Regions from separate parts of the Homo sapiens genome. Here region 2 is linked to region 1. Evidence: fine-mapped expression QTL. A gene starts in region 1. The other region holds a variant in brackets. All regions are shown on one strand. Distances are between the middles of the regions. Region 1 holds the start of LINC00469 (long intergenic non-protein coding RNA 469). Region 2 overlaps LINC00469 (long intergenic non-protein coding RNA 469).

What was found. PIP is the estimated chance that this variant, and not a neighbour inherited with it, causes the effect.
Region 2: its variant is fine-mapped to the expression of LINC00469 in whole blood (INTERVAL, PIP 0.96).

What each region holds. Positions count from the first base shown.
Region 1 is chr17:73,822,765-73,834,656 of GRCh38, reverse strand. It overlaps LINC00469 (long intergenic non-protein coding RNA 469), which reads left to right and starts at 6,120. Exons shown (of 4, transcript NR_027146.1): 1 at 6,120-6,209; 2 at 10,832-10,969. RefSeq lists enhancers at 4,282-4,781, 4,782-5,283, 6,274-6,783.
Region 2 is chr17:73,766,083-73,777,974 of GRCh38, reverse strand. The region is part of intron 2 of LINC00469 (long intergenic non-protein coding RNA 469); the gene reads left to right. Among named protein-coding and RNA genes, the nearest start is that of LINC02092, 15 kb to the left of the region's middle. RefSeq lists enhancers at 6,742-7,241, 7,242-7,743, 10,094-10,594. The variant TG/G (reference allele first, on the strand shown) is at 6,251.

The DNA of each region.
Region 1 (11,892 bases):
TTCATGGCACCTGAGAACCTTGAGCCCAGCAGACCCTTTAACAAACACTTGTTGAATAAAACCTGTGAACAAGTGACTGAATTTTAAGGTCACCTTTTTAAAAGCAGGCGTTGTCTCTTGATTGGGGTCCCTCACCCATCTCTTTGGCCCTAGTTCTGTCTTGTCTCTCTCCGCCCGCCTCTTATCTATCACGCTCGCTTTTCCTGCCTTCTCTCATTAGCGCTGGAAGGGAAATGCGCCACTCCAATTCTCCGGCTGCCTCCTCACTGCTGTTGAGCTTCAGAGCACAGTATTTAAATCCTGTTAAATAACCTGTTTTCATGGGCAATCACAGCCAGGTTAGTAAATTCCCCACACGCTCACGCTTTAGACAAAACCGACATCCCAGGTCCACAGAAAATTGGCCATTGTCCTTTAATGGTGAAATTGAACTGAGCAAATGGTGGCACTTTAAAAGAAAGTCGTTGCCATTCACACAAAAAGTTCAGCCTACTGCTCTGGAAATTTCCAGTTCACAGCCCATTTCTCTCCAGGTATAAAGGAGAAAATAAATACCCTTGCAAGGCAAGTGATTAATTTCAGCCAGCATTTTTGAGGCTCCTGCTGATGGCTGGCTCTCGGGCTCTTAATCGGTGGCCCTGGCCAGGTGGGGGGTCCCATCTCTGGGATTTCAAACTGGCAGCTTCTCTGCTTCCACGTGACTGCGAGTCACAGGAGGAATATGCCTCTTGTCATGCTCCAGAAGATGGAGAGGCAGTGAGCGGAAGAAGCTGGGAATTACTCATTTTTTTTCATGACTCTAATGGGCTACGAACCTAGCTTCTGTCATGTTCTCCACCACCACCTCCATGCCTTTAATAGGCACCACTGTGTGCATGGCTGCACATTAAGGGGACTGTAGAGAGATGCCAAGAGGTATATGAGCGTGCCTCCATTGGTGAAGGGATTCAGTAGCTTTATTATTATTATTATTATTATTATTATTATTATTATTATTATTATTATTTTTAGAGACAGAGTCTCACTCTGTCGCCCAGGCTTGAGTGCAGTGGCACCATCTTGGCTCACTGCAACCTCTGCCCCCTGGGTTCAAGTGATTCTCCTGTCTCAGCCTCCCAGGTAGCTGGGATTACAGGCGCCTGCCACCATGCCCAGCTAATTTCTTGTATTTTTAGTAGAGACGGGGTTTCACCATCTTGGCCAGGCTGGTCTTGAACTCCTGACCTCATGATCCATCCGCCTCGGCCTCGCAAAGTGCTGGGATTACAGACGTGAACCACCACACCCAGCCAGTAGCTTTATTTGATCCTGAGGGTGGCTCAGAAGATGCCTAGACTTCCTGCCACTAGTAGATGGTTTAGATCCAAGCCTTTAGTTTTTTATTTTATTTTATTTATTTATTTTTTTATTTTTTTGAGATGGAGTCTCACCCTGTCACCCAGGCTGGAGTGCAATTGCACTATCTCGGCTCACTGCAACCTTCACTTCCCAGGTTCAAACTTCTGCCTCAGCCTCCCGAGCAGCTGGTACTACAGGTGCCTGCAACCATGCCCAGCTAATTTTTGTATTTTTAGTAGAGACAGCGTTTCACCATCTTAGCCAGGCTGGTCTCGAATTCCTGACCTCGTGATCCTCCCACCTCGGACTCCCAAAGTGCTGGGATTACAGGTGTGAGCCACTGCGCCCAGCCAAGACTTTGGTTTTTGTTATACGTGGGCAGCACCCAGAAATGGCACTCATCTCCCATTTGCCCTAAACCAATAACACCTTGTGAATCAGTCATCGACTACTGTGTAACAAATAACCCTAAACTTGGTGTGGCCTCAAACAACAACCATATACTCAGTCTCAATTCTGTGGTTTGCCAATTTACAGTGGACTCAGCTGGTCTGAGATGTTCTACTGAGCTTCACTGAGCTCAGCTGCATTCATCTGCACAACTGCTGGGTGGGCTGGAGGCTGGTTGGCCTAGCTGGGCCATGGGCTAGTTCAGGCTTGTTCACAGGTGGTCTTAGTGTTCCACGGTCAAGAGTGGAGGCTTCATGGCCTTAGAGTGGACACATTGTCACTTCTACCAGCTTCTGTTGACCACAGCAAGACAAATGGCCAGTTCAGATTCAAGGGGTGGTGTAGTAGTTTGAATAGTGTCCCCAAAAAATGCGTGTCCATCTGGAACCTCAGAATGTGACTTTCCTTGGAAATAGGGTCTTTGCAGATGTAAATAATTAGGGATCTCCAGGTGCAAACATCCTAGATTTAGAGTGGGCTCCAAATCCAATGACCGGCATCCTTGTAAGAAGAGAGGAAGACACAGAGACAGAGAGACACAGTGAGAAAGACACACAAAGTCAGAGGCAGAGATTGGAGTGATGGAGCTACAAGCCAAGCAAGTCCAAGGATTGACACCAGGAGAGAGATCTGGAGTGGATTCTCCCCTAGAGCCTTCAGAGAGAGCATGGCCCTTCCAACAACTTGACTTTGGACTTATTCTGTTGTTTCAGCCACCTGCTTTATGGCAATTTGCTACAGCAGCCCTAGGAAGCTAATATGGGAGGGAAATAGACTCCAGCTCTTGATGGGGGAAGATGCAAAGTCATATTGCAAAGGATGAGAATACAGGAAGGCAGGGGGAAGTAGAGCCTCTTTTGCAATCTTGCACCTTGGTTTACCAGTCCCCACTTTGTTCCTGGCAGGTGTCTTAAAACCGAAGAGCATCACAGAATGCCAGACACCAGACACTCACCACACGCAGTGGGTGCTATTTCTGCACCAGGCTCCAGAGAGTGCGTTCCTGGGTGCTGACGCTCCTACAGCTGCCTCCTCTGCAACAGCCTCTCTTCCCTGTACAGATTCCTCACCACATCCAGCCAAATTGCCTTCATCTCAGCAGAGGCTGTAGAAGGCAGACGGCCAGGAGAGTGGGGCCGTCAATGCACTGGGTACAGCAGTGATCCTCCAGGATTTTCAACACCTCAGGTCCTAGTGGCCTGGGATGATCTGACCCCAGACACCCTCCCCAGATGCAAGTCCATCCCCAATGCACAGGAAGGAATACATCTCTGGATTGACTAAAACATCATACTGGAAAGGAAGTTTGACAGAGGAAGGTCATTCTCATTCCACAGGCACTTCAAAGACAGGCTTCTCTCTTGGGAGTCGAGCTGTAGCTTCCATGAAGTTTTCAGCACGTTTTCTGAATACCCACCTGTCATCGATGCTTGGAGGTGCAAAGTGGGTTGGATGACTGAATCCTGCCCTTGAGAGCTGACACTGTCACCAACGTTGTTGAGATGGGCTGGAGTCACCCACTGAGCACTCAGTGACTGGTACGCCAAAGGCCAAGGCCTCACGGTGGACACCATGATGAAAACAACATACAATTAGATGGGAGGAAAACATTCTGTTCTTCTCTGGCACAGAAGAGTGGCTATTGTTAATACTAATGTACGGAATATTTCAAAATACCTAGAAGAGAGGACTTCGAATGTGCTCACCGCAAAGACATGACAAATATTGGAGGTGATGAATTTGCTAATTACCCTGATTTGATCCTTACACAAGCTATACATGTGTGGACACATCACACTATACCCCATAAATATGTACAACTATATGTTCTTTTTAAAAGATGGAAACGATGCCAATGTCCATCAACTGGTGAATGGATAAACGGAGTGTGTGTGTCCATATGATGGGATCGCATTTGTCCATGTAAAGGAAGGAAGTGCTGATACACGCCACAGCGTGTGTTGGTGGACTGCTCGGGGCCCATGCACACCTTGTGTCCAGGCTTCCTCTTGCAGGACCAGGATCTTCCCTGTCTCCTTCCACGTTGCTGAAGAGTCACCCTGCATCAGGCAGTGGATCACAGTGGCAGAGTGATGAGCTTGATAGACAAGGAGCAGCCTTCAGGGAGCTTTCACCCAGTAGGGGAAATGGATGAATAACCAACAACAACACCTACTTACAGCTTGTGAAGGTGCCAAAAAGAAACCAGAAAGGTGCCCTGGGAGAGGGGAGCTGGGGTGGGGATAGTGGGTGAGAAGGAGTTGAAATCTGAGCTGGGACATGAGGAACTGTGCTATACAGGGTTGAATAGTGCCCTCCCCTGCCCCCACCACCATTCATATTTTCTCCAGGAACCTCAGAATTTTTTTTTTTTTTTTTTTTTTTTAAAGAATCAGGGTCTTAGTGTGTTGCCCAGGCTGGTCTTGAATCCTGGCCTCAAGCAATCCTCCCACCTTGACCTCCCAAAGTGCAGGGATTGCAGCGTGTGCCACCATGCCCTGCCAGAATATGATCTTATGTGCAAATAGGATCATTGCAGATGTAGTTAATGTGAGGTCATACTAGAGTAAGATGGGCCCTTAACCCAATATGATTTGTGTCCTCATATGAAGGGAGAAGAGACACAGCCATGCACAGAGGAAAGACAGTGAAAGCACAGACACGCAGAGGGAGATGGCCTCGTGACAACAGTGGCAGAGGCTGCAGCGATGCAGCTACAAGCCAGGGAACCCGGAGGATTGGTGGTAACCACCTGCAGCTGGAAGAGGCAAAGAGGATGCTCTCCCACAGCCTTCAGAGGGAACAGGCCCCTGGCAAGACCTTGACTTTAGAGCTGGGCCTCCACAATGATGAGAGAAGCCATTTCTGTTGTTTGAAGGCACCCAGTTGATGGCAATTGGTTACAGCGTCCACAGGAGGCTGAAACAAGAGCGAAGACTGTTCCAGCAGAGGGAGGAGCCAGCGCAGATGACTTCACGAGAAAGTTCCTAGGCCTGCTGGAGCAGCGGCCGGGACGCCCAAAGGAGCGGGAGCCCTACAGGCAGGCAGGGATGGTCCCAGAAGGAGTTGGTGCCCAGCCACAGGGTCTTGTAGACCATGGTGATGATGTTTGTTTTATTCTAAGAACGCTGGGAAGTCATTGAAGGATTTTACAAGAAAGATGAAACATGATTTGAAGTTCATTTTTGAAAGATCGCATCAGCTGCTCTGTGAAGAGGAGTTTTGAAAGAGGCAAGAGAGGAGGCAGGACAGCCACTGTGGCCTGCAGGTCCTCAAACGATTACACAGAGTTACCGTGTGACCCACAGTTCCACTCCTCTGTATAGACCCACGAGAAACGAAAACATATATTCATACAGAAACCTGTACAAAATGTTTAAAGCAGCATTATTTGTAATAGCCCAAAGATAGAAACGACATAAATGTCCACCAATGAATCCATACAATGAGGTAGTTATTTGGCCATAGAAAGGAATGAAGTGCCGATAGGACAGCATGAATGAACCCGGGAACCATCACGATAAGTGAAGGAAGCCATTCACAAAAGACCACGGATTGTATGATTCCATTTAGACAAAATGCCCAGAAGAGGCAAATCTCTAGAGACAGAAAGTAGATTACTAGTTGCCTAGGGCTGTAAGGGTGAGCGTTGGGGAGGGGAGATAGCTGAAGGGTCAGAGCTTCTTTTTGAGGTGATACAAATGCTGTAAAATGGACCACGGTGACGATTGCAGCTACATGGAATATACTAGCAACCATTGAATTGTATACTTTTTTTTTTTAAGTGAAAGCAAGCTTATTAGAGAAGTAAAGAAACAAAAGCATGGCCACTCCATAGGCAGAGTAGCCTGAATTGTCCACTTTAAATGGGAGAATTACATAATATATGAATTACATTTCAATAACGCTGTTTAAAAGAAAAAAAAAAGAGTGAAATCTCAGAGGAGGCCACTGAGCACTCTGGTGGAAGAAAATGGTGACTTAGGCCAGGGTCATAGAAGTAGAGACAGCAAGAAGGGATGAAAACAGTGGATTGTGGAGGCCGAATAGACAACCGATGAATAGGTCAACACCTGCTGTCCATCTGTACGAGGGAATATTATTCAGCCATAAAAAGAAATGAAATGAACCTTGCTGCAACATGATGTTAGGTGAAATAAGCCAGACACAAAGGCCCCATATGGAATGATGTCACTTACACGAGGTTTCTACAATAGGCAAATTCATAGAGACAGAAAGAATGGAGGTTACCAGGAACTGGGAGGAGAAAAGAATGGGACATTATTATCTCACAGTTCCAGAATTTGTTTGGGATGATTTAAAAAAAAAAAAAAAAGCTCTGGAAATAGATCATCAGGATGGTTGCACAATGTTTTGAATGTAAATGCCACTGAATTGTACACCTTAAAAGGGCTCAAATGGTAAATATTATGCTATGTATATTTTACCATGATGAAAATAAACGTACAAAAGTGAGACAGCAGTGAGTCTAGGCCTCCCTTTTAAGAAGCGATGGCATCAAAGAGAGCAGAGGAAGAGAGATGGAAGTTAGGAAGGGGTTTTTCAAAGAGCAGATTCACGGGAAACGATTCATTCGTGCAGGAGAGAAAGGATGAAGGAGGAGCGGGGTCCCTTGAATGTCCACAGGCAGAAGACGAGGGCAGAAGGGGAGGAGGTTGTCTTTGTGGCGGACAGAGGAGCTGTGAATAGGGAGGGAAACAAGGGTGTGCCTTCCGTTTACTCAGCACAGGAAGAAGCAAGGCGAGGAAGAACAGGCTCCTTTTTGAAATGCAAAAGCCTGTTCTTATCTAAACACTCTTGCATAAGACAAACAAGAGCGCTACCCAGTTGGTGACTTGGGACAGGAATGCCTGCCACCCTCTTAAACGTTCTCTCCCCTCCCCTAGCCTAGACTGAAGACCTCGGCCTCCAGCTTCTCTCCCAGACCCTTTCTTGGCTGGATGAGGTCACTCACCCCTTTTGAAAGCTCCACAGGCATTTCTGGACCAAGTTCCCTCACTCTTTTAAATGGTTCTGTAATTGCTTCATTCGCATAAACCTGCCCTCCTGGGCATCTGAACAGCCCCAGGGCAGGGCCTGACTGCAGAGCCAGCTTCCTTACGCCAAGGCCCTCGTGCCTGCGTCCCTCCTCGCCTTCAGCCATGAGGTTGCCTGGCCAGCGGTGGGGGTCGCCTGGATCGTGGGGATGTTCCCCCCACCCACCTGGCCCCACCAGTGAAGGGCCCCAGCTGACACCATCTCTCTTGTTTCCTGTTTTCCTGGGTCAGACCCAGCTGGAGGTCTGCAAATTCTGAAGCAGTTCTCAACCCTGGGTGCACATTTTAATCATTTTTTACAAAATACGAATGCCTGATGTCCAGCCCTGACACTGGTCTGCTTGGTCTGGGGGTGAGGCCCTGGAACGGATGTGTTTAGATTTCCCATGAGACTCTGATGTGCAGCCAGGGTACCAACCTCTGCTCTAAAGCAGGTGAGATTGCCCTGGGGACTTCATTAGAATCAGTGCCCAATTCCTCCACCCCCGCAGAGATTTCGCTTCTGGAAGTCCAGAGTCGAGGTCCAAGAATCTGTGCATTTTAACAATACAGCCCCCAGGGGAGCTTGATGAAGGTCCCTTGGGAAGTTCAGGGCATGGTGCAGGGGACACTGTCTCTCTCTCCTTCCCTCTCATCTGCATCAGCTCCCCAGGCAGGTGGCACTTTCTCTGGACAGGTCTGGAGTCAGGGCTGCAAGGCTGGTTTATGCCTGGAGGTCGGGGGATGATGTGAGGTGTGCATAGAGAGAAGCCCCTGTGAGGAACGGGGACCACTCCTGCTCACCCACATCAGTGACAGCCCAGCCTGGGGCTGGCCCTGGAAGGCCAAAGAGTGAACAGGTCTGGGGGCTGGTGCTGGGTTGAGCTCAAGGGCCTGGGGCTGGGGTCTCCATTCCAGATTCCTCCTTCCCTCTGTCACTTCAAGTACCATCAGAGCCACCTGGGGATTTTGTCCTGAGTCACTCTGAGGCAGAGCAGGTGAGGCTGTGCTGGGGAGGAACATGGGGGCCTGAGCCCCCGACTCCTCCCCATTCCCCCACCTGCCCTGCTTCAAGGACTTGTCTAAACTACACAATGCCAGGCCGGCGCTCCCAGCTTGGGCTCTCACCCCAGGTCCCATTGAGAAGGTGGAGAAGGGTCAGGATGGAAGTTTCAGGCAGGTGGTCCAGGAGAGGACAGTCCTGGGTGGAGTCTGGGTCTTGGGTGCTCTGGGCAGCTCATCACCTTGAGTGTCCAGACTGTCAAGTCCGAGCGAGACAGGCAAAACCCCTAAGTGGACAAGAGTTGGCAGGGACCAGGGCAATGATTAAATCCACTTCAGATCATTTCTGTGGCCGTCTTGTTACCCAGCCCTGGCTATGTGTTTCAATAACGGCTGACAGCGGGTGCAGTGAGCTGGGCTGGAAACTGCCACATCCATCCACCCTGCTCAGGGACAGCTGCTCCCCTATCCACAATTCCCTTGTCCCAGAGGCCAGGACTGAGGCCAGGACACTGACTAGACACCCAGGCCTCCTGGCCTCTAAGAGCCACTCATGGGAGTCATCCACGACATCTGGGGAACCTCCTTGACTTCAGAGGAGGATATTGGAGCCCAAGCTAATTGATGGGTAAGCCAGGACCTGAACACAGGTGGTCAAGCTCCATCCTCCCCTTGGAGAGAGGACACAGTCCTACAGAAAGCCAGACTGCTTGGATTTGAATCCAGGCTCTGCCTCAGACGAGCTGTGTGACTCTGGACCTGGGTCTCAGCCTCTCTGTGTTCCAAGTGTCCTGTCTATTAATGTGGACGATAACAGTCCCTACCTCTTAGGGTTACCATGGGGATTAAATCTGGTAATTTAATTTTTGTCTTTCTTTTGAGTCAGAGTCTCGCTCTGTTGCCCAGGCTGGAGTGCAGTGGTGCGATAGCTCACTGCAACCTCTGCCTCCCGGGTTTAAGCAATTCTCCTGCCTCAGCCTCCTGAGTAGCAGGGATTACAGGTGTGCACCATCACGCCCAGCTAATTTTTTTCTATTTTTAGTAGAGACGGGGTTTCTTCATGTTGGCCAGGCTGATTTTGAACTCCTGACCTCAAGTGATCCACCCACCTCAGCCTCCCAAAGTGCTAGGATTATAGGCATGATTTTTCTTTACACCTCTTTATATTAGTGCTTACCACGTGTCAAATACTTTCCTAAGCACTTTATAAAAATTAAGCTATGGATAGTGACCCCGATGAGGTAGGTCCCACACTTTATACACAAGGAAACTAAGTCACAGAGAGATTAAGGTTATACAGCCATTAAGTGGCAGTTGGAATTCAAGCTGGAGTCTGGTTCAAGGGTCCATCCATGCTCTTCGCTACTTACCATGCTGATGCCCATATGCGTACCAGAAGGCAGTAGGTGCTTAAATGTTTACAGCACCAGTGATTACTATTAGACCTGAGCTGCAGAATTTGTGGCTGATGGTGGCTGGTCTGTGATCATTGTCTGGTGGGTGGGTTGCCCTAGCCCCCAGGCCTTCCTCTTGCTTTTTTTCCCCTCCACTCTTGAAAGGGAAGCTGAAGCTCTGGAAATCTACAACTATCTGCTGTGGGGGCTGCCTGAGCAGGTGGCAGGGCCCTTCTCTCCTGTTCCACAGACGATCTGATTCACGGTGGGCCCCTCGTGGCTGCTCCTGTCCACCTGGGCTACCACTCACACCCCTGCAGCCCTCCCTCCGATCTTCTCAAAGGCATGTGAGATGGTTTGCAAAAACACCCTCAACCCTGAAGAACAATCTAACTGTAAAATGCTCAAGGCTGGGCACAGTGGCTCACGCCTGTAATCCCAGCACTTTGGGAGGCCGAGGCGGGCAGATCACTTAAAGCCAGGAGTTCGAGACCAGCCTGGCCAACATGACAAAAACGGGTCTCTACTAAAATACAAAAATTATCCAGGTGTGGTGGTGTGTGCCTGTAATCTCAGCTGCTCCAGAGGCTGAGGCAGGAGAATCGCTTGAACCTGGGAGGCAGAGTTGCAGTGAGCCAAAATCATGCCACTGCACTCCAGCCTGGGTGACGGAGGAAGACTCCCTCTCAAAAATAAAAATAAAAATAAAATGCTTAAGAAAAATGAAACAAAACAAAAGCAATATCATTGAAATAAATGGCAGGAGGCTGCTTATTGAGGGGGTGTGGGAGAGACAGGGAGAGACAAGGAGAGAAGGTCATTTCCAGGATCTGTTCCTCAGATGGAGCCCAGTATGCACCGCTCTTTCCCAGAGCGGCCCTCTACAGATGAAGTGTCACAGCAAACAGAAAACCACAGATTCAGCCCTGGGGGCTACCAGCTTGGAGACTGGAAGCTTTCTGCTCCTCCTCTTAATTACTTTGTGCTTGAAAACCCTCGTGGCATATTGACCCTCCCAAGAAGCAGTAGGACGGGGGAGGACTCAGGACCTCCTAGACAGTCCTCTGAGTCCTGTCCCTTCATTCCCTGACAGTCAAAAGTGAGATTTTTTCCTCCATAAAGGAAAGGTGAGTCTGCCACTTCAGATTCTCAGCAGGCACTGCCGTCTCAGTGTTCTGGCCTGAACTCTTTGGAGGAGTCGTGTGACTACAAGCCTGAGAGCTGAGGACAGGGCACCCAGGGGATCCCAGGGACCAGCAGAGAGCTCTTTCCAGCTTCCTAGGTGGGTGTCCTGGCCAGTCCCACAGGCCCTTGTTTAATGGTCTGCTGTTGCTGTCTTGAAATTTTAAATCATTTTTCACAAGAATTGCAACATTTTCATTTTGTGCCGCCCTGCCAAGTGAAGTGGCTGCTTCTGCCTGGGGGTGTCAGTGTCCCATGGACATAAGGCACTGAAGTTAAGGGGCTCCTTTCTCCTCCCTCCTGGCATTTTTCACAGCAGGTTTCTCAACCACAGCAGTGGTGACACTTTGAGCTGAATTATTCTTTGTGGCGGGGGCTGTCCCGGGCCTTGCCGGATGTTTAACACCACTCCTGGCATTTACCCACCAGACGTCATCAGCACCCACCCTCCCAGATGTGACAATCAGAAATGTGTCCAGACATATCCAGATGTCCCTTATGGGGAAGGGAGAATCGCCCTGGCTTTGCAGACTCCAGCTGGAACCCCTGCTGCAAGCGATGGAGGAGGTGAGCTTTTCTTTCAGACTGACATAGAAAATTCCTTGGCAGGTCTTGTCCTGGGTTCACTCAGACACCACCAAAATAAGGAAATAGCTGAAGAAGAAGGCCAGAGCTTCTGAACGAAGAGAAACCCTACCAAATTTGGGTAGGGGGAGACTCTGAGGAATATTCCATAAGGTTGGGAGGGAGGTAGACAGGTGGATCCCAGACACCTGGACTCCTTGATGGAGGCAGGTCTAGCTCCCCTTCGCAGCTTCTGAGCATGCCCCCTGGCCTCCTCTTTGGACTCCTGCATCAAGAGGGCAGATGGGAAACCACCAGGCTTTGGGTCAGAAGACCCAGATTTAAATTTCAGCCACCCGCTATGTGACCCTGAGCCAGTTTCATAACCTTTCTGAGCCTGTTTTCTCACCCACAAAATAAAACTAACCATACCTACCTCGGGAGTCACGAGATGAAAGAAAAAGTGTGTCAAGCCCCTGGCAGGTGCTCAGTATCAGCAGCTATTAAGCTTTTTTCTAACCAACTCTGAGCAAATCCCTGACCCCCTGGAGCCCTCATTTATCCTCACCTGGGCCACAGAAAAAATAGCTGACTGGCGTCTTTCCCCCAGCCAAGGAGACAGAGACAGCCTGAAGATAAGACTGAAGTGAAGAGCCAGGCGCAGTGGCTCACACCTGTAATCCCAGCACTTTGGGAGGCTGAGGCAGGCAGATCACCTGAGATCGGGAGTTCGAGACAAGCCTGGCTAAGATAGTGAAACCCCGTCTCCATCAAAAATACAAAATTAGCAGCGCGTGGTGGCGCGTGCCTATAATCCCAGCTACTTGGGAGGCTGAGGCAGGAGAATCACTTGAACCTGGGAGGCGGAGGTTGCAGTGAGCCGGGATGGCGCGACTGCACTCCAGCCTGGACGACAGAGTGACTCC
Region 2 (11,892 bases), 57 kb after region 1:
CCTGATGTCAGCTCATTTGATTTATTCCTTTGGTAGTCGCTTATTTCACATTCATTCTGGCTATAAGTCCTTTACAAATATTAAATCATTGAATCCTCATTATAACAGTATGAATTAATGTGATTATTTCCCCATTTTACAGAGAAGAAAACTGAGGTAGGGAGAGGTGAAATACCATTTGCAGTGTCAGGTGGTCAGTAAATGTCAGCAAAGGCCCTTGAGGCCAGGCAGTGGGGCTCCAGTCTGTGCTCTTATCCTCTGCACAATGCTGCCTTATGCCTTGAAATAAGAATCTCAAGGCAGTAATGGAGTCAGCCATCAGCCATGCAGGTCTCTGTGGGACAAGCCTTCCAGGCAGAAGGAACAGCCAGTGCAAAGGTCCCGAGGCAGGGGACTGCCTGGGTTATTTGATCATAGGGCAAGGCAGCCAGTGGGGCTGCTGTGGGGTGGGTAGGGCGGGCAGCTGGGGAAGGGGTGGTCAGAGCGGTCACTCAGGCCACATTGCAAGGGGCCCTGAGGCCATGGCGAAGACCCAATTCTCGTTCTGGGAAAAGGAGGAGGTCTGAACGGTTTGAGCTGTGAGTGGCTCACCCTGGCTGCCATGCTGAGCATGGGCTGCCAGGGTCAGGATGGGGCAGGAGTCCCAGCTGGAGCCGGAGAAAAGCACTTGAAATGGGGAAGAATGATGTGGGATTCTGGGCAGTTTGAAGCAGAGCCGGCAGCATTTCCCAATGGATGGAATGTGGAGTGTGGGAGAAAGAGATGCATCTGTCCTGGCTCATAGATGTGTGGCCCGAAGAACAAACTGGAAGGACAGGGTTGCTCTATGCCGAGATGTGGGAAGAGTCTGTTTGCTTTCTGAGTGTGGCAGCTCCCTCTGAGGATGAAATCACAGCATAACACATTGGAATGGCAATAACTGCCTTGAGACAGAGGTGTTATATCCAAGAAAAAGCGCTTTCAGAGGAGGCTGTGGTTGAAATAATAATGATTGTTTTGATGCATTCCGTATCCAACTGATGGAAAGCACACTTAGCAAGTCAAGAAAAACATGAAAGAATCCAAAGGGCTCCAGGCCAAGACCCAAGTTGACATCCTAAAGCCGCCTGGGAAGTTGAGAGGAAATCGTCTCCCTGCCCCTCCTGGGAGTTGGGGCAAATGGCACCATGAGGACCCTAGCCTCCACCGGGGCGTCTTGGGCCACATCTCGCTCCAGCAGTCAAGCCTCCGAGCTGCCGATGTACGGATGTGGTAAGGATTGCCGATGACTTTTTCATCGCTTTTACGGCAACTCTCACTGCATCCGCCATTCTTTGCAAGGAGAATGTGAATGAACTTCAGATTGAACTACAGACAGAAGAAATTCTTCCTGCCAAAGACACTTAAAACCCCTCCCGTCGGCACCGAGCCCCAAGAATTCTGATTGTGGCAGAGAAAAAACAGCCAGCAAAGATAATACCAAATAGTATAAAAATAGAGTGGGCTTAAGGCAGAGAGACAGAGAGCTGTAGTGTCTCACGCTCACTACAAACATTTACAGAGCATGCAGCTGGGAGGCAAGACCAGCCAAGGAGATACCAACGCCACGAAGCTCTGGGCGAAAGAATCTTGCTAATACTGACATCCATTTCTTCGGGCCTTCATTTGATGAATATTGAGGTGTACAAAGCTCACAAAGGTGTCACGTCCAACATGTCTCTGATGGCGCTGATAGACCGAAGGGGACTGTTTTCAACAATTTGAGCCAAGGTGCTGATGTCCGGCGTGTGAAACCTGGGTAAGCAACCATCTCCAACACAGGCATCTCCATGGGCAGGGCATAAGCCACGCTGCCCAGGACCACCTGTCCCCGCTCCCTGCCTTCACGATCATTCTGTTTTTACCCCTGGGGTTAGGGATCGGAGGAAGGCTGCAGTTTCCTAGCGACCATCTGTCCCTCATCCTTACTATTCCCTGTTTCTGCTTGTGAGGGTGACGTGGGTTTGCGCCTGGGAAGGGCATCTTGTAAGGCTTTCTGTTTGTCAATCTGTGAACAAATATCTATATCCAGTTTACTTCAGGCCAGGCCTGTGCTAAGCGCTGTCATGTAATAGGCTCTCAATAAATATTTGTGAGGCTTCAGGGATATAAACCTTATGAGCCTACCTGGACAGAAAGCCAGGTCCCTTCTCCAAAAACTTCCAGACATTTTCCCTCGAAGCAATGTCCAGGGAGAGAGGCCAGTGGGACATGGACGGGGGTACCCAGGATGGGTAGGGGATGGGACCTCAGTTCTCTGCATAGAGTCCCCACGCACCAGGCATTTGCCAGGTCTGCTGTGGCAATGACGTCCCACCCTGTTAGTTTCTCTCACTTCCAAAGCTCCAGGAAAAGCACTCAAGCCTTGGTAAATACAGTCTCTCAACTGCAGCCCTCACCTTCAAACCTGATTCCTTCTCTCCAGCCCTCAGCCTTGACTGTTCGAGTGAACCTGGTCAGCATTTCTGACCGACCTGTCACTTGGGTCTCTAGTCTCATGCTCTGGGACTAATGGATCACATCATCTGGGACAGGTGCCCATGCCTGGGCAGACCCATATACATGCAGTCCTACTCGGTTATAAATATCTATGGAGTGCAATACCAAATAATTGTGGGGCATATTTCACCCTGCCTGTTGAACACATTGCAAGAAAGGAATTGATCCCTGCTGTTTCATTTATTAGATGGTGTAATACCACAAAAATCGTTTCCACAGTATCCCAAACTAAATCATTTATTCTTGACAAAAATCCAATAAAGAGCTCAATCCTTCTCCATAGGCAGATAAAGCACAGATTAATGGGACTGCCTAGATCAAAAAATGCTGGGAAAATGAAAGCAAGATAGAGAGAGAAGCCTCCTTCCTCCTCCTCACTTCCCCAAGACTGCCTCGGCTCAGGGTTTTATTACAAAAAGCCGCCTAAGTATTACAGGCTAATCCGTAAATCCCAGCCTAGTAAAATATGTGACGGATTTGTAAATTGTGCCCTTTACAAATCTGATTGAACTTTTTTTTTTTTTTGGCTGGGAATTTTGCCTTTCTCCTTTTCCTCTTCTTCTCACCTTGTCCCATCTCGCTGGGTCCCCAGTGACCCGGAACCCTGCATCTGACAGTGTGGGCCCCCAGCACTGGCAACATTCCTGGTATGTTCAGCCCTTCCATGACCCTTCTATGACTTGACTGACAGAGGGTGGAGATTGTTGGTGGTACGAGAGGCTGAGAAAACCATCATTCTCTTTATTTACCATCTAAGGGGAAATGAGATTCAGATGGGGCCAGGGCCCCAGGGCCAGGCGTAGCAATGTCAGGGGCACAGGGCATGCTTGCAGCCAAGTATGAACGTGGTGAAGGATTTGTACATTGTTTCCAGTGGAGACAGGAGTAGATCAAGCTGGTGACCTTCAGATCCACAGACTGGCTGCTCAGAAGAGCCTTTGCCTTGGCTGGGCGCGATGGCTCACGCCTGTAATCCCAGCACTTTGGGAGGCTGAGGTGGGCAGATCACGAGGTCAGGAGATTGAGACCATCCTGGCTAACACGGTGAAACCCCATCACTATTAAAAATATATATATACAAAAAATTAGCCGGGCATGGTGGCAGGCGCCTGTAGTCCCAGCTACTTGGGAGGCTGAGGCAGGAGAATGGCGTGGACCCGGGAGGCTGAGGCAGGAGAATGGCGTGAACCCAGGAGGCAGAGCTTACAGTGAGCCGAGATCATGCCACTGCACTCCAGCCTGGGTGACAGAGCGAGACTCCATCTCAAAAAAAAAAAAAAAGAAGAAGAAAAAAAAGAAGAGCCTTTGCCAGCAAATCTCATTCTGCCCACTGACTTGAGCCCACTACCTTCAACCACCCAGAGCAGGTGGTTCTCCAGGGTCCATCCACTGTACCTGGTCCACACTGTCCTTGGCGTGCACTCCATCTAGGGTACCAACCATCTCAGTGTGCCCGAGACTGATGGGGCTCCCAGAAGGCAAGACTTTCAGTGCTAAAAAGTCTCAAGCAAACCGAGATGAGTCACTCGCTGGCTGTGCATCCTCTGCCTGAAGTTCTGGGCCTTCTGCACCCTGAGAAGAGCTAATCACTCAGGCCAGCTTTTAGCTTTCTCTGCCTGAAACCACTTCCCTTGCAGAAGCAGAAAAGTGCCCGAGCAATAGCATGGGCTTGGTAGTCATCCAGCCCTGGGTTTGGGTTCAGGATACCCGTGGCCATTGGAAAGTCACATAGCCTTTCTCGGCCTCAGTTTCCTCATATGAAAAGTGGAGATAATAATACCTACTTAATTGGATCATTGTGCTAATTAAATGAACAACAAAAGTGAAGCATCTAGCATAGAGTAAGCACACGGCAATATCATCATCATCATCATTGTTTGAACACATCTCCTTAAGTAAGACTGAAAAAGAAAAGTATGACAATGGTGAAAAGCCCTTTGAAAGCTGGTGCAATGACAACCCCCCGACCATCTCACTAGAGATATAGCTCCTTATTCTTGCAATCTGAGCACTGGCCAAAGCCCAGATGTCAGTCTTTAAAGGAGCCAGTAATGCGAGCCGCTGGGACGCAGATGATAGGATGGAAACCAGGTCTTTCTGCTTGGTGCTGTGCCTCACATAGTTTCAATCTATGGGGCTATACCCCAGCGCCCCAGGAAAACGACTGCTTCCTCTTCTTACAGATTTTACAAAGGCAAAGGAAAGAGCCACCTGGGATGGTTGCCCTATCAACTTTCCTCAACCACCGCCCCCTACACACTTAGGCCTGTCCAGCATGGAAGCAGGGCTAGAGAAACAAGGAAAGGAGAACGGTCCTGGACCAGCAGCCTGGAATGGCATTTCACAGGCTCTAGAAATGTGATAGAGAGTACCAGCCCTGCAAACAAGAGTGCTGCTCCCTGATCCTGCTCATCCTGTTGCCGTCTGGGGGTGAAATTGTCTTCAGAATTCTAGATTGATTGACTGCTGGGAAGTTCGTCCTGCTGTTCCACCTCCATCCCTCCCAAGGATGAGGGTGCCTTTGGAAGGGACAGGTGCCCATGCTTGGGCAGACCCATATACATGCAATCATACTCGGTTACAAATACCTAGAGAGTGCAGTGGAGGCAGTGGGGCAGTGGAGAGCTCAGGACCTTTTCCAGGTCCAAGAGCCTAACAACACTGCATCTTGCTTGGGTCCTAAGATAGGCCTTCTGCAATGAGGCAGGGAAACTAGGAACAACTTGTAGATAGGGGATTTGCCTCCCCAGAACACTCTAAAAAAGTGGAGTTCCCATCTGCTGTGTTTCTGAAAGCAGAAGGAGTGGATTCTGTGAGCTCAGGCTGCTCCCACAGAGCCAGGGTCCTCCTTTTTGTCCCTTGGAACATCCAGTTGGCGCCTCCACTGCCCCAGTCAACCTTTATCCCTCTATTTCCTGCTGAGAGTTAATCTTATTTCCTGCCTTCTGGGTGTTTAGCTTGGCAACCCAGAGAGCCACTCAGCTGGACCTCTCCCATTCTGCTGATCACAGCTGGGAGAAGGTTAGAGAATGTGACTCCCACAGCCATGGCCCTGGATGGGGTCTCCCGGGCAGTTTATCCTGCCATTGTGGTTCTTGGCATTGAGATGCAACGATTCTAGTTCTGTTATTGAGGGGGTGCTGTGTGGGTGTGAGGGAAGCAGGTGATCGGTCAGGGGGTTGAGGGGCAGTTGCCAGGGTGTGGGAGGGGAGGGGGAAAGCTGTGCCCATTACTCTTTTGTGGACTTGGAGGTGAAAAAAAAATCAATGAGACATCCTGTTTCAACTCATCCTGAGTTCAAGTTTAAGGGCATTTGAAAAAGTGCTCGTTTTCTTTTCTGGGGTGGGTGGTCATGACATGAAAGAGGACGTACCAAAGGATGGGGTTCCCATTCAGTGGGAGGTTTCATGGTGTCATCCCTCCACCCATCACTCAAAAGGCCTAAGATCTGGGAGGCAAGATGAGGTCTTTGTAGATAGCACAGGCTGGGGTCTAGGTTTGGGAGCCCCTTGGTCATGACCTGGCTCCCATTCCCATACCCCTGTTGCTCCATCGAGAGCCCATAGATCAACCACCAAAGCTCCATTCAGGGTCTTGTAGATTTCGTTCCCTCATGGAGGATTTTAAAGGGAAGGAGGGCAGCTAGCAAGGCCAAGAGGCATGAGAAGCAGGGCCCCTGTGTTACCACCACACCAAAGCTTACCTGAGTGGAGCTTGGCAGCTCTGTTCCCCC[TG/G]ATTCTCCCAGGCATCCTTCCAGAAGTCCTAAAGTCAAAATGCCAGAGATCTGGCCACGTGGGTTCCTGCTAGCTTGTCCCAGCCAGCACCCAAGAGACCACAGGGCATGATGAGTAGAGGGAGTGCCAGAGCAAACTCATTGGACTCAGGGTGAGCATCTCAGTAATTTCTTATTTATTGGCCTCCTCCAGTCCCACAATCACTGGTTCTGCTCAATATTTTATTCTTGTTGCACCTACTCAGGCGGCAGAGCTGCAGGCATTTTTGATAAATGGATTGAAAGGTTTGTCTACTTTTGCTGAAGCTTCCATAAGTGCCTCTGTATCCTCCACTGAAATTATATTTCCCAACTTCCTACAGTGATTTCTCTCCCCTCGTGACTCCTCTCTTCCTATTTGCTAGGTCTTGTGCACTCTGTCTCTCTCTTCTCCCCATCTCCTACAAACACATACACACACACACACACACACACTCATGCAGAGATGCCCATATCCATGAACTCACAAACTTAACTACCCCTATGACCACTCAGGGGAGCAATATACAAGGGACCAGAGAGTATATCTATCCATTGACAGGGACGCACATACAACAGCCATGCACACAGTACATCCCCTCAGGCACACGAATATAGATGCACACATGAGCTGTGGCTTGTGATTGAAATCTCCATGCTGCTCTTTCTAAGCTCATCCAGACTCAGACCCTGATGGCAGGCTGCAGAGACCACAGGTCCACCCTGAGCAAGGGAGGACACAGATGGGCAGACGCCAAGGAGAAGCATGGTGCCCCAGTGATCCCCGCTGGGGACCCCAGTGAGCCTTCGAAGAGCCCTGCCCCATCAGCGGGCTGACTCCCCCAGCCCTCCTCCAGCCCTCCTTCATCCTCACCCGCCTGCCTGGCCTCAGCAGCCCCAGTGGGCCAGCTGGAGGCTTTATCCCAGCCACATCTGAAACAGCTCAGGAGCTGTGCCTGGCCGCCAGCCGTTTCCATAAATAACTTGCTGGGCCTGGCTCCTTGCCCTCCTGGTGATGTCATTGGCCTTGGCCCAGATGATGAGGTCACAGGCTTCCCTTCCCTCGCCACTCCCTTGGGGTGGGATGGGGGAAGCATGAGACCTTCTTCACAGAGCCTGTCTGCCGAGAACCTGCCTGTCTGCGCCCCATCCTGTTCCAGCCCGGCCAGGCAGTGGATGTGGGTTCTCCACCATCTGGGACTGCCTGCATGGTGGTGCCAGATGGCAGCCTTCCCCCTCCTTGTCACCAGTTCCTGAACAGCCTCCCAACTTTTCCATCTCCCCACTGCCTTCTCCCCTTGTCATGATGTGATTTCCAGGGGACAGTGGACTTGGTGCCCGGATGGAGCTCCCCCTAGGTCCAAATCCTGGCTACCCCACCCACTAGCTGTGTGACTCCGGACAAGATGCTTCACCTCTCTGTGCCTCTGTTTTCTCATCTTTAAAATGGAGGCACTGATAGGACCTATCTCAAGGGTTGTCGTGAGGCTGACATGGGCTCATACCTATAAAACACAGTGCCTGGCGCATTAGTAGACAAATAAATTGATTCCATGATCACACTTCCCTGTGCCTGCGTGTGCTGGGGAGAGGGGAGGCTCTTGCTTTGTGCATTTTCAAATATGTGGCAGGCAGAGGCACCCGTGATCTCCTGTCTGTGGCTCTCACATCCCCCACAGTCACCAAAGATTCCATTTTCCCAACTTGGGCTCTCCCCATCGCCTCATTCTATTCCAGTGGTGGCCCCAGCTGATTCCCAGAATCATTGCTTTGGTCCTGGAAGTGGGAATGGCCAAGATGTGAGAGGGTCTTTGAGAGCTCCAAGGTGTTCTGAGGCCCCACAGCCACCCCACTCCACAATTACCTCCAATAGAAGAGAGCCAGACTCCCTCCCTGGCCAGCACTAAGGTCACCAACATGAACAGTATCAGACAACACAGAATGACCAGCCAGGAGCCCGTGGGCATTGGCTCCAGATGTGTGAGTTTGGAGAATGCCCTGCGGAGGCCATGGGGAGATGGCCGTCTCTGGACTGGAGAGTGGAGAAGTTTCACTGTGATTTCATCACTGTGCTGTTGGATATGACAGCCCTGAGCCACATGTGGCTATTGATCACTGGACACTGGGCTAGTGAGGTGCCTGAAGTGTGGGATACACACAGGACTTTTAGGACCCAGTATGAAAAAGAGATGGCAAGATATCTCATAAATAATTCTTTTATATTTATTATGCATGGAAATCATGGCATTTTTCATATATTGGGTTAAATGACGTATGCTATTGTGAGCAATCTCACCTGTTTCTTTTCACTTTTTTTTAATGTGGCTGCTGGAAAATGTAAGGCTACACGTGTGGGTTGCGGTGTCTTTCAATCAGGTAGCCCGGGCCTGTTCTCTCACTGAGTGCTAGAAAACATTCTTTGGCTCCCATCCCGAGGGTTCTGACTTGGTGAATGTGGTGTCTTCCGGAGCTTAGGGCTGCTGCCTTCAGCCAAAATATGCCCGCACCCCTTCATCAGTATCTGGAGAAGACCGGGACTGGGCACTGTACCAGGTGCTCTGGTTTCCTCCCCACGTGTGGTCACCGCCTGCCCACCATCCTGAGCTCAGCCTTATATATTTAAGGGGGGGCTCCCTAAATTTGGCCAGAACACCCCCAGGACATCAAGCACTCAGTGCCACGTGGCCCCTCCTATTCTTCCCGCCACAGCTTGTAGCACCTGCCTAGAAGTTGTGCCTCTCTTCTCCCTTCATGTAGATCTTATTCATGCTTTAAAACCTAAATCAGAAGTCACCTCCTCCATGAAGCCTTCCTGGACCCCTCCACTGGATGAGTCACTCTGGACCATCATAATACTTTGCCTCAAACTCAGTGAAGCTGTTTCTCAGAGTGTGTGTCCTGATAGAAGGTGTTACATGCCAGGCCATTTCTGTTCACATAAATCTTCATCACAATCTCAAGAGGCAGAAAGTAGGATTATTCTTATTTTCTATATGAGGAAACTGAGGGAGAAAGATTAAGCATCTTGCCAAGGTGGCAGAGTTTATAGTAAAGAAGCAGAATTCCTGCCCATGGGGTCTGATTCCCAGGTCATGCTCTATCTGTCATGCCTGATGGCCCAGTCACAGGTAGCATCATTCCTGGTACCCCCCCAAAAGACAATGACAGTATTGAGAGTGGGGCCCCAGTTTATCCATCACTGTAATCCCCATGTTATTCACTCAGGTTTAGGCACACAGTAGGTGCCCAATAAATGTGGACTGAATGAAACCAGCATTTAGTTATTAGCCTTACTGTGCTTTGAAATTGGGTCCTAGTACCCATGTCCCCAAGGCCAGCCCTGGCCATCTCCCACCCCTCACTCCACCCACCTCCATCCTGCCTTCAAGGCTCAGTGGCCTCTCCGTACCTCCCCAGGGAGTTTTGAACTGTGCTTGTTCAAAACTCAGTTATTGTCGTGCGACCTCTGTTAGCCAGAAATTAATTCCCCAGGTTACCACTACATAAAAACTCAACTCTTTTTATGGTCTCTATATGCCTTGCCCTTTCCTCTTATGCAGGTCTCTCTGTACTTCTAGGGAATAAATAAATACAGTGTAACTTTTAGCAGACTTTATCCACTGTAGCCCTCCGGGCACCGTGGGGCCTGGAGCCAGCTAGAACCCCAGCTGCATCTGGGGGTTGGCAGGTGGGGCATTGGGAGGATTCTGTGTCTCACCCTAGAGCTCTCTGTTCTGGGGACTCCCTGGGTCTTCACCAGCCAGGCACAATCCCCATCGTGGTCCATGGCTGCACCCCTCCTGCCAAAGCTCCCTTGAGGAGTTGTTGCCCCCTGCTGCACCCACTCCTTGCACCTGTAACCACACTTGACAGTGGTGAAATTGGCAGCAGCGGAAGGAACGCCCACTGAATTTCAGTAGTGGGTCAACCCCAGTGCTGATAGAGGCTGGGCCAAGGGGCACAGCGTTCGGGGACTCCAGCTACTGAAACCCCCTCCCATCCCAGGGAAAGGCATCAGAGAAGATTTTTGTCTGGCTTCTAGACCATGCCCTGTGATTCCAGAGGGTCCCTCATGTAGGTGGTGGGGTCTACGACTACCCTGGAGCCATGAAGCTCCCCTCCCGCATTTATATCAGGGCTGAACAATCTCCACCTTGCTCATGTCCCAGTGGGACCTGGACTCAATGGTATGCTTGCTAGTCTGGGATCAAAGGCCAGTAACTCTGACAATGTTTCTCATCAGGAAGGCAGGGGGACATCTCTGTTCTCCTAGTTCCCACAGAAAGATCTATGTGTGGGTTGAGTCAATACTCTGTTGGAAGAGAGAAGCTCTAGTCTCTGCAGGGACAAGCCAGCTAAGGGCCCTGTCAATTTCATTTCCCTTTCACCATTTAACCAAGAAACATCCCAGTCTTTTTTTTTAAAAAGTCTCCATGTAGTAAATGATGATTAACACCAAAAAATAAGGGCCTCTTTCCTTTCCCCTTCTAGTTTTCCTATGTTTGAATCCCAGGGCAAAACCACCTTGTTAGGTTGCCTGGTCCGTATATCCACCTCAAACTGGCTCTACAAGAAACCCTTTGGATTTTTGTACCAATCCTCAGAGCTGGGAATCCTTCGCCTCCGGCCTACAGTCCTCGTGCTGCCTCTACTGGATCCAGCGATTGCTTGGGGACAAACGATCATTTCTCAGCTTAGGAATTGTGAGAAGAAGGTATTTAGGCTCTAGGTAGAACTGCCAGATTTAGCAAGTCAAATCACAGAATGCCTAACAACAAAACTAAACAGTGGGTAGGGTTTTGGCATAAGTATGTCCCATGCAATATTTGAGATATACTAGAATTTTCCCCATTGTTTCTCTGAAGTTCCACTTTAGCTGGGTATCCTAGCCCTGGGCTGCAGCCTCAGGCTCCCAGAAGTGATTGTGGGGTCTGTGGGTTGTCAGCCTACAGAGAAGGATTATGTCTATAACTAGTCCCACCAGTGACGACACACAGTCTTTACGGTAAGGTGGGGTAAGTTTTGTGCTCGGGATGAGCTGTTTAGGGTGGTCCGGCTCTCCCTTTGCCATGGAAGAATGAAGCCTCCCTCTCTTTCTGGCCTTGAAAATGCCCCAGCCTTTGCTCACTCTCTCTTTCCCCGCCCTAAGTCCCTGTAATGGACCTCAGGGTCCCCTGTGGGCTCCAATCTCCTGTAATGAGTCGGTTGCCATGGGTGTGTTTGGCTCCAGCAACCGTGGCTCTTGGGACCAGTTGACTCATGTTCAAGTACACCTTTGGAGTCCACGTGCTCCTCTACTGCTGCTGCCCTTGGCTCAGCAGGAATCTCACAGCTAGAGTGTTTCTATATCTGGGGCCTTCCCAAGCTCTACACCCCCATCTCACCGCTCCCTGCCCTCCATAAGAAAGTTTCCGGGGATGGGAGCAGCTATCTCTGAGATAATTGCTTAATTAGGGGAAAATTACTTAAATTTCAGCAGCAGCAGCAGCGGTAGCAGCAGCAGCCACTGTGCTGCTCTGACTATAAAATCCTCTAAAACCCAGTTCCCTTAGAAAGGAGATCACTGCCCACTCAACACCTACTCCTCCTTCTCCAGGGAGAGGGCAGGAGAGAACCTGAGCGGG